Homo sapiens: one gene and its partners. The protein of the gene in region 1 interacts with the protein of each later gene in a biochemical or structural test. Each region holds a gene or a part of one and is shown on either strand. Other genes may lie near its edges. The genes, in order: NUFIP1, GEMIN2 and FMR1.

Evidence for each region.
Region 2: the proteins of NUFIP1 (region 1) and GEMIN2 form a complex in vitro, tested with the Homo sapiens proteins (one study listed by BioGRID).
Region 3: the proteins of NUFIP1 (region 1) and FMR1 form a complex in vitro, tested with the Homo sapiens proteins (one study listed by BioGRID).

The regions. Positions count from the first base shown.
Region 1 is NC_000013.11:44,947,754-44,951,506, forward strand, and holds part of NUFIP1 (FMR1-interacting protein NUFIP1), read right to left. Parts: intron 2,086-3,753; coding exon 1,969-2,085; intron 1-1,968. UniProt on the Homo sapiens protein: Binds RNA.
Region 2 is NC_000014.9:39,124,205-39,127,957, reverse strand, and holds part of GEMIN2 (gem-associated protein 2), read right to left. Parts: intron 2,967-3,753; coding exon 2,922-2,966; intron 1-2,921. UniProt on the Homo sapiens protein: The SMN complex catalyzes the assembly of small nuclear ribonucleoproteins (snRNPs), the building blocks of the spliceosome, and thereby plays an important role in the splicing of cellular pre-mRNAs.
Region 3 is NC_000023.11:147,935,917-147,939,669, reverse strand, and holds part of FMR1 (fragile X messenger ribonucleoprotein 1), read right to left. Parts: intron 3,167-3,753; coding exon 3,057-3,166; intron 2,205-3,056; coding exon 2,070-2,204; intron 1,572-2,069; coding exon 1,509-1,571; intron 1-1,508.

The DNA of each region.
Region 1 (3,753 bases):
CACCTGTTATGAATACAACTGATAAGCAGGAAATGTAATATGTGTTTAAAGAATAACTCCATCTTCACACCAATGTATGAGAAACAAGAGCACAAAAAAATGCTATTTTTCTTAAAATTAAAATAGGCAACCATCTGTTAAGGAATACTGTGATAAAGCCAAAGTAGCTTATATTTCAAAATTCAAGTAGCTATTAAGAAGCTACCATAGTAAGCCATGGCCCACTTAAAAAAGAAAAAACTTCCCATGTTACAGATACATGTAAACACCATTTTTCATATTAAAGCCTAACGGCTCCTTATTCAACATCTTCCAAATACATAAACATTGATTATCTCTAGCCTAGTCAACATTAAAAGTGCTGCCATCTCCATCAAACTACATTTCCTTTTTTTTTTTTTTTTTTTTTGAGCCAGAGTCTCACTGTCACCCGGGCTGGAGTACAGTGGCACAATCTCACCTCACTGCAACCTCTGCCTCTTGGGTTCAAGCAATTCTCCTGCCTCAGCCTCCTGGGTACTGGGACTACAGGCACGTGCTGCCATGCCCGGCTAACTTTTGTATTTTTTGTAGAGATGGGGTTTCACCATGTTGGCCAGGCTGCTCTCGAACTCCTGACCTCAGGTGATCCACCCTCCTCAGCCTCCCAAAGTGTTGGGATTACAGATGTGAGCCACCGTGCCTGGCCCATCCAATTACATTTGAATCTTCTCTTCATTCTATATAAACACTTTTAGACCTGTATTCTTATTCTCAGCACAGCTCCTACTTTGATTACACATCTTGTCCTGAGACATAGACATGAATTTTCTCACGGCTGGTAAAGTCTAAATAAAATGACCACACAGAGCCAGGTGTCCACAACAGTGGAACATAGATTTATTCATTAAACATATGCTGGATTATTGATATAAACCTTGGATTAAAAACTGCTACACTGCATCAGATCAAGAGCCTACTCATGGCTCTTTCAGGTAGCCCTGAAAGAGATGCTGAAGGAAATTAAACTGGTTTATCACAATTAAATTTCACAATGAAGCCTCACACGTTACCATCCGTAACATCATCTTTAAAGGTAAGACATGTATTCTGAAAGTTACTGACTTCTCAGAAAGACTCTTGAAAAGATTCAATTTCTTCCGACCTTTAAAATGCACAAGCTAATGCAGACACAAGTATAAGGTTGTTGTGTTTTCCAAATGAGATAATTTATGTAAATATGCTCTAGGAAGAACAATGCCCTATATGCATTAAAAAAATTGTATCACACTCTTTGTCATAAAAGATCTCTCTCCATCTACCAAAGATGCTATAAACACGTTATAACAAGGGTTCTTCAGAGCAGAGAGAAAAAAATGAATTTTCTTTTTGCCATTTCGTTTAGAATTTTCTTCAGTTCTGTTAGTGGATATTTTCTTTTCCTTCCTATTCTTTCATTATATTGTATTTTTTTTTTTTTTTTTTTTGAGACGGAGTCTCGCTCTGTCGCCCAGGCTGGAGTGCAGTGGCGGGATCTCGGCTCACTGCAAGCTCCGCCTCCCGGGTTCACGCCATTCTCCTGCCTCAGCCTCCCAAGTAGCTGGGACTACAGGCGCCCGCCACTACGCCCGGCTAATTTTTTGTATTTTTAGTAGAGACGGGGTTTCACCGTTTTAGCCGGGATGGTCTCGATCTCCTGACCTCGTGATCCGCCCGCCTCGGCCTCCCAAAGTGCTGGGATTACAGGCGTGAGCCACCGCGCCCGGCCTATATTGTATTTTTTTGCCTTTTTATTCCCAGAGTAGCAACACATTTCTTTATTACTCCAGAGTTCCTTTAACCCATGTTAACTTTACTTCTGATTCAAATGGAAAAGGAATTTGAAAACCAAATAAAGGATGCACATCCTGGATGTTATTAATGCGCAGCATGCACAAAAGGCAAAAAGCAACAAAACAAAACCCTGTAACAACACACACCATGACTTACCTTCTGGCTCACTCTCTGACCCTGAAAGACTGCCATAGCTACTCATTAGTGAGCATAGGGCTGGTGTCACTTCCTTGGGTATCACAGAATGTTGTGGTTTCTCCTCCTTATCAGACTCTGAAGGGAAAAGAAGTCAGATTCAAAACATCTACCACCATAAAAAAGCTGTCCATCCCCCATTCCCTCATTTGTTAGTGAAAATTAAGTAATTTCTGATCATTTCCTTAATCTTTCCAAAAGACTAATTCTAGGGGGCCAGAAACACTTCCCCTTGGTTTAGACATCTTCATGGGCCAAGAAACCATTTGCCCCAGAGGAGACAGTGAGGGAAAAGGAAGCTATATAGAGCTCAGTTACTTAGCATGCTTCACAGGTTATACAATCTGAGCATACTCTAAATTAACTTAATTACATAGTCTTTGCTGTTCATTTACAGGTAGTAGGAAGACCCAAACTTTATTTAACTTCACTGGATTGGGATCACTGCCTCTGAAAATTAGGTTTAGAAATAAATGAAGTATTAAAATACCTATGCTTTTAACTGTTTTTAAGACTGTTTTTGGGGATCCAAATAATATTCAAAGCATTCTATAGGCTTAGTCAAACAGTAATGCTGGAATTAATCCACCCAAAGTTTTTTTAGAGACAGAGTCTTGCTCTGTCACACAGGCTGAAGTGCAGTGGCATAATCTCGGCTCACCACAACCTCTGCCTGCCAGGCCCAAGCAATTATCTTACCTGAGCCTCCTGAGTAGCTGGGATCACAGGCGTGTGCCACTATGCCCAGCTAATTTTTTGTATTTTTAGTAGAGATGCGGATTCACCATGTTGGCCAGGCTGGTCTCAAACTCCTGGCCTCAAGTTGATCAGCTTGCCTTGGCCTCCCAAAGTGCTGGGATTACAGGTGTGAGCCACTGTGACCAGCCCACTCAAAGTTTTTATTATTTAAAACTTCTAAGAACTTAAATAAACAAGGCAACCATGAGAATTTACCAAGCATAATACTAAAGTGCCTGCCAAATATAAAGTGTTTGATCCAGGCCCAGCAAGCCTAGTTGTAGCCCCAGGACACCACCTATTACATTTCTTTTTGGCAGCTCTAACAATCTAGTAACTCTATTCTAGACAACCAATAAAAATAAGGCCTCACTGAAGACAATAAGTAATTTGTCTATTTAATTAACCAACTCAACCTAAAACCAATATAAAATGTTTCAAGACTAAGCATTTAATGTTCACCAAGTCAGTCTAGGGGAAACCAAAGCATGCCAGTAGGAAATGGGAATATCTTTCTATGTGAATGTTCAACTGCCACCTTCTGCTGGATGGAGCTAAATCCTCTCTCCTCACTACACACCATCACACCTATAAAAGTACTCCTTGTCAATTTTAAGCTAAGTTACCTTTACTCCTTGATTAATAAAGGGAAAGGAAAGTATGAAGTTTATGTGAATTACTAGTAGATTAAGCAGAAATCCACCACAGTGTTAGTATGGAGACTTCCCATTCATTGGCTGAATGATGAAAGAAAAAACTGCAGCATTTATTTCCAAGACTCAAAGAGAGGTAACAAAAAGTACAGTAATAGTTGAATATTATGCTCTTCAAAAGCATGATCTGACCTAATCCTTATGAGGTATGTGATGAGGGATGAAACAAAAATCCAGAGAATTTGAGTAACCTTTCCTTAAGATAACTATAAATCAGTTGGGTCAAATTTAAAGCCTGGCTATCTGACTCCAAATCCAAATTGTTACCAGTGAGCTAGAATGCTTCCCACAGACA
Region 2 (3,753 bases), on another chromosome or scaffold:
TAGCTGAGATTACATGCGTGCACCACCACGTCCGGCTAATTTTTGTATTTTTAGTAGAGACAGGGTTTCTGCATGTTGGTCAGGCTGGTCGAACTCTCGACCTCAGGTGATCCGCCCTCCTCGGCCTCCCAAAGTGCTGCGATCACAGGTGTGAGGCACCGCGCCTAGCCCCAGTGAGGCTTTTAAAACAAATATTTTCACACTTTCAAATATCAACTAACACCTTGGTTTAAATCCTAGGATTTAGTTTGTAACTATTAATAATTTAGTTTGTAACTACTTGAAAGACTTCACAAGGTTAAAAGAAAATGTATTTGTGGCCAGGCTCAGTGGCTCTTGCCAGTAATCTCAGCACTTTGGGAGGCCGAGGCAGGTGGATCACTTGATGTCAGTTTGAGACCAGCCAGGCCAACATGGTGAAACCCCATCTCTACTAAAAATACAAAAATTAGCCGGGCATGGTGGTGAGTGAATGCAGTCCCAGCTACTAGGGAGGCTGAGGCCGGGGAATCCCTTGAACCTGGGAGGCAGAGGTTGCAGTGAGCCAGGATTTTGCCACTGCACTCCAGCCTGGGCAACAGAGTGAGACTCTGTCTCAAAAAAAAAAAAAAAAAAAAAAAACAATGGCACACCTGAGGTCAGGAGTTTGAGACCAGCCTGGCCAACACGGCAAAACCCCGTCTCTACTAAAAATACAAAAATTAGCCAGGCATGGTGGCGGGGTCTGTAATCCTAGCTACTCGGGAGGCTGAGACAGGAGAACTGCTTGAACCCAGGAGGCAGAGGTTGCAGTGAGCTGAGATCCTGCCGCTTCAGTACAGCCTGGGCAAAAGGCGAAACTCTGTCTCAAAAAAAAAAAAAAAAAAAGATGTATTTGTAAAAATACCATCAGTTGGCCAGGCGCGGTGGGCTCATGCCTATAATCCCAGCACTTTGGGAGGCTGAGGCGGGTGGATCACAAGGTCGGGAGACAAAGACCATCCTGGCCAACACGGTAAACCCCATCCCTGCTAAAATACAAAAAATTAGCTGGGTGTGATGGTGTGCGCCTGTAGTCCTAGCTACTAGGGAGGCTGAGGCAGGGGAATTGCTTGAACCTGGGAGGTGGAGGTTGCAGTGAGCCAAGATTGTGCCACTGCACTCCAGCCTGGCGACAGAGCGAGACTCCCTCTCAAAAAACAAAACAAAACAAAACAAAACAAAAAAACCATCAGTTTATTTCTAAATTCAAATTAAATCAAAGTACAAATCTGAATAAAAATTTAGGTGGAGAAAAATCTGTTCTTAAACTATACAGATGGATTTATCAAACTCTTGAAAATAATCTCTGGTTTATTCAAATACAGTTGATGGTTACAACAAAAATGACACTGATGGAATTTAGTATGACTGCTACAATATCTTAATGCAAATGATTAAGTAACACTGTCAGCTTGTGTATTATTTCCAAGAGAATATCACCCACAAAAAAAATTGTTGGCTGGGCCCAGTGGTTCACACCTGTATTCCCAGCACTTTGGGAGGCTGAGGTGGGAGGATCGCTTGAGCTCAGGAGTTCCAGACCAGCCTGGACAACACAGTGAGACCTTGTCTCTACCAAAAATAAACAAAATTAGCCAGGCATGGTAGCACATGCCTGTGGTCCCAGCTACCAGGAGGCTGAGGTGGGAGGATTGCCTGAGCCCCAAAGTACAAGACTGCAGTGAGCCAAGATCACATCACTGTACTCCAGCATGGGCAAGAGAATGAGACCCTGCCAAAAAAAAAAAAAAAGGCTTCCAAAGGTACCCAATGCTATGTGAAGATAAAATTAAATTTTTATTTGCTTTTTAAATGAATAAGAGTCCTTACTCCTAAAAAACTGAAGAACCAAACTCCATAATTCTTCCCTTTTGATCCAAGAAATCATATATTTCAATCTTTCTTTTTTTTTTTTTTGAGACAGAGTCTCGCCCTGTCGCCCAGGCTGGAGTGCAATGGCACGATCTCGGCTCACTGCAACCTCTGCCTCCCAGGTTCAAGCGATTCTCCTGCCTCAGCCTCCCAAATAGCTGGGATTACAAGTGCACACCTCCACATCCAGCTAATTTTTGTATTTTTAGTAGAGATGGGGTTTTACCATGTTGGCCAGGCTGGTCTCGAACTCCTGACCTTGTGATCCACCTGCCTTGACCTCCCAAAGTGCCGGGATTACAGGCATAAGCCACCGCGCCCGGCCCATATTTCAATCTTAATAGAATGTATAGGACATCTAGAACTAGAAATAGCAATCTAACCTTAGTACAGATGCCCCTGAACTTGCAATGGGGTTATGTGCTGATAAACACATTGTAAAGTTGAAAATTCCTAAAATGGCTGGGCATGGTGGCTCATGCCTGTAATTCCAGCACTTTGGGAGGCCAAGGTGGGTGGATCAGTTGAGGCCAGGAGTTCGAGACCAACGTGGCCAACATGACAAAATCCTCTCTCTACTGAAAATACAAAAATTAGCCAGGCATGGTGGGAAAAAAGGAATCCTAAACTGAACCATTGTAAGTCAGGGACCTTGTATTTAATTCAAACCCCAGAATCTAAGACTTATAACTGAAAGCTACAGAAATGAATACTCTAGCACCATGATTAAGACAGAGCATGAGCTCTGGAGTTAGATCTACCTGGCACTGAATCTCAGTACTGCCATTTACTTGCTGAAAAACCACCTGCAAGTTACTTAACCTCAAATGCTGTTTCCTCATCTATAAAAAGTAGTTATCAATAATAACTCTCCATAGAGGGTTGTAGTAAGGATTAAATAAGAACCATTAAAGAGCTTAGGACAAAGTCTTGCATACTGTAAGAATTCAGTATATGTATTAACAATTCAAATACTTTCACACACAATGCAAACAAAAGAATGCATATATCTCTATTATTAATTTTACCTGATTCATTCTGCTAACAATACTAAGCAAGGGAGGAAAACCAATCTGAAAGAAAAAATGAGACTGAATTTTACTAAATGGTATTATAAGCTTCATTTTTTTTTTTCAAACTGGTGAATTTCTTGCCACACTGTTGTTTAGAAACAAAGAACAAATAAAAGAAAATTCTTTCATTGTCCATAACAATGAGACATTCCGGAAACTACTATGTTTGTAATGCGGAAGAAAATAACGCCTTAAATTTTGAATATGTAATTTTTTTTTTAGATGGGGTCTCACTCTGTCACCCAGGCTGGAGTGTAGTGGCGCGATCTTGGCTCACTGCAACCTCTGCTTCCTGGGCTCAGGTGATGCTCCCACCTCAGCCTCACGAGTAGCTAGGACCACAGGTGCATGTCAACACGCCCAGCTAATTTTTTTGTATTTTTGGTAGAGATGAGGTTTTGCCATGTTGCCCAGGTTGGTCTGGAACTCCTGAGCTCAAGTGATCTACCTGCCAGAGCCTCCCAAAGTGCTGTGATTACAGGCATGAGCCACCTCACCTGGTCTGAATTTGTAAATTTTTAAATAAAGTATGATTTTAGTAAGTAAAATGTTAAAGACTAAAAATTTTTTACATGATAGTACTTGAAAAAACTAACTTATTAAGTATATCCAATAAAACTGTAACATTGATAAGATGACATTAATATGTTGTATACACCATTTCAAAATCTTCAGCTAAAGCTAATATTTTCAAGAATTAAGGACACTTGAATTAGAATGACATTTTTAAAACCTAATTTGATTCAATTTTTAAAAGTCTACTTTGGAGTCTGAGGCTGTGATTGCT
Region 3 (3,753 bases), on another chromosome or scaffold:
CTGCCTTGGCCTCCCAAAGTGTCGGGACTACAGGCATGAGCCATCGCGCCTGGCCGATCAAATTCTTAAAAAAAAAATCAAAATGAAATACCAAGGGTACAAAAGTAAAAAGTAAATCATTTCTGCTAACCAAGTAAATAGAGTACACACAAAATACAAACAAAAACATCAGGATAAAAATGCACTGAATAATCTGTGAGACAAAAAAATAGGTACATTGACAAGCATTAAGTTTTATCAAGCCCATACACATTTCAATAATGTACTCTGAAAATTTTAAAAGGCTGAATCACAAGGAAAGTTTGAACTTCTCTCTATGGACACTACTTAACATAAGAACAGATTTTTAAAAGGCATATGCTAAATGTCTGTACTCCTAGCCCATATATATATATATTAAGAGGGAAAAAAAAAACAACTACTTCTTGTCACAAGTTATAGGGAAACCTAGAAACAATTGTGCAAATTAATAACTGGCAATTCATTTCTGCATGTTGGGTTTTTCTCCAACAAGCTTTATTTGTTACAAAAGCCTTTAACTGTATTATTTCCCAAAATACCATGTGATGGAATGAATGCTACACCCTTCCCTCTGGGTCAAATATCACCAAAATAGCTTTAAAATCCTATGTAACAGATTTAGTTAGATTGACTTCGGAGCAAATTATTTACGAATATCTTTTCTTGCAACATGTCTAAACTGCTGGAGTACCCCAAGGGCCACTCTAATTTAAGCACTTCACGAGTAGACCTGAATAGTAAATTAAAATGAAGAAAGGCAAGAATGGAATGATGGCCTTTAGTACGGACCCCAGAAAAAAGTTACTCTGTGTTCTGGAATAATGGGCTGCCCGGCAATGAGACATATCCAATCCACTTGCCGTTATAGTCCTCTTTGTAAAATGGCACCTTTGCTTTTAATCCATGAGTCCACAACATTTTTTTCCATAAACAGTTCTCACCAGCTCTCCCTGCCCTCAAAGAACTTACAATGTGGTTGAGGAGATCAACAAATAAACATCTATGTTTAAGTGCTATGCTAGGGGTGAGCACATTGCAAAACAGAAGGGGAAGGCTCTTGAACCAGTCAAGGGGGTGGGGATCTTCGGCAAGTACACAAGGAAAGCTTTGTAAGGAATAAGGTCAAAATGAGGTGACATGTGGAGGAGAAAAAGCATTCCAGGCAGAGTAAACCTGTACATATGTCTAGAAGCAAAATAAGCACGAGAATGTTCAGAGAACTCAAAGTACTTCAGTATGGCTTAAGGTTCTCTAGAGTGCAAGGGAGAAGATAATTTAAAGATGATAACTAGACAAGTAATTAGGAAAAGCCTTACAAGCGGCATGAAGGTGTTTAAGCTTTAACTCCAGGGCAATGGATCCACATACCCACAAACACTCCTCCCTCCAGTCCCTAATCCTGAGGATCATTTGTAATCTTTGTTAACAAGGGGAATAAACATTAAAATATAAACTGAAAGTGTATTTCTCAAGGAATGTTTTCCTACCTGCCAAGCCTTGAGTTCAGGTTTCTGGGATTCCCCTGCTACAACTGATGAAGCCACTAACACCTAAAGCAGTATAAGGAATGCAAGGGATGTCATTAACTATAACAAACGATACACAGAAGCCTGAACGCAGGACTTTCACTGCAGGACTTTTAAACCCATTTCTAAACAGATTAGTTCAAACAGAGAAAATTAGTTTCTAAAATATGGTTCAAGTAGTAACTAATGCAACTAACAGAAGGTGTATTTTGAGCTACGATACCTGCAAAATTTAAAGAGAGAAGGCATGGAAAAAAGAGAGTCCACTGTCAAAAGAAAAATGTGACCACTAAATGCAACCCCATTATTTTGTGTTTATGGCATAAGAGTTGTTACTGTGAATAAATTGAAAAGTATGTATCACACTAATTTGTAGTATCTCATAAGCTGGCAATTACATTTGGAAAAAAAATAGAACATAAGTAGCCTACAAGTCTAACCAGAGAAAACATCCAAAATACCAATTGTGACATCTGAGACAAATTACTTGTATTGTAATTCAAAGTGACAAGTAATTCTTACCCTCTGGACTTTTGTACTGTTAGGTTGAGAAAAATGGGTGCTGTTTTCCTTTATATCTAAATGTTTTTTTTCTTCTGGGGCATTAGGTCCAACCCTTGAATTATTGGAAGGAAGGGAATTTGGTGGCATAATTTCCTTGGTAAAAAACAGAAAACACAAAAGAGAAAAAAAGGACCAATTTAAGACTTTATTTAGCTCTATTAGTGTTATCAATCATCATATTTTTAAAAAATGTAAGTTATTATAAACAGTTTTGGTTTATAAAATTACCGAATACAAATTGTACGCAGAAAAAAAAGATTTAACTTTAGCTAAAAGAATCTTTCAAAAAGAAAGCTAGACAATATGTGAAAATTACGGCTCTTTGATGAGACAGTATCTTAAGAGTACTATTGCACAGAAAGGTGCATCCTCACCTCTCTACCCCATGCAAATACTTTAAAAGCTGCTACAAAAAGCATATATTTATGAAGATAAAAGGGTTACAGAATTTAAAGGTAAGGAGGATGGGGAAGAGATATTAAGCACAGAAATAAATTTAAAGCACACAGAATAAACACACATACTACACAATCCCCACACTAAAAAAGTGAAAAGATGAAAGCCAGAAAACCTGTGTTCCAATTTTGCTTTTGTCAGCAACATTAACATTTACAAAGTGCTTTACGAAGCATTTACATATATATTATTTTATTAAATTGCCATTAACACTCGACCCAGTGATGTATGTCTCATATTTAAAAATTTATAACTACCCATTTTAAAGATCAGGAAAAAAGAATTCAATAAAGTGACTAATCCAAACTCACTGCATTAGAGGACAGAGAAGGGCCATTATCTACAATTATAACATTAATTACAGCAGGCATGCTTGATAATCAGAATATTTGCATTCACTTTATGCACATATTAGAGGTCCTCAACATATCACATAAAAAACTTTTACTTTTATTATATGTGCCACAAAATATTCGCACTGTAACATACCTCTTCTTGTGGAACATTTTTCTCATTTTCAGCCTCAATCCTCACCCTCACAACTCCTGACTTGTCCACAATCTCCTGAATCAGCTTTCCATTTTTTCCTATTACTTTGCCTAAGAAATAAATAAATCAAGTTTGGTTTTAAAAACACATACCTCAAAGCAGTAAGCACAGCCCTACTGTAAACTATTACATTCATATAGATAGATATTTTTATGTGTATGTGTATGTATTGAATTGTAAGATTTCAAAACCAAAGTAGAGACTCTTTTCAACAAGATGGTTAATCTGGTTTTCTGTTTAATTAGGACATCATTGTTTAAACTCCTTTGGTCAGGTACCAGAGTTGATTAATACTTGCAAACTGATAGGGTAATTTTGGATTTTTAAGGCAGTTCAAAGATAACCTCTTATTTTTGCACAAAAGGGTACGCTTTAAACTTGCTGGTACTGTGGTATGTATCATTCTTTCTGCAAAGTTCTATAAGAATTAAGAAAAAAGTAGAGAGAATGGGAAATATATTCACTTATTCAACACTTTCAATTCTTGTCTGTACCTGATTTAAATCTGCTTCTTTGTCCATGGTAAATATTTTCAGAATTCTGTATGGAAGGCACATTTATAAAAGATAATCTAAGTCTGAAAGTGGCTTAAGCAGCTATACATACATCCAAAAGGAATACAAATTCTTCAAGGTCA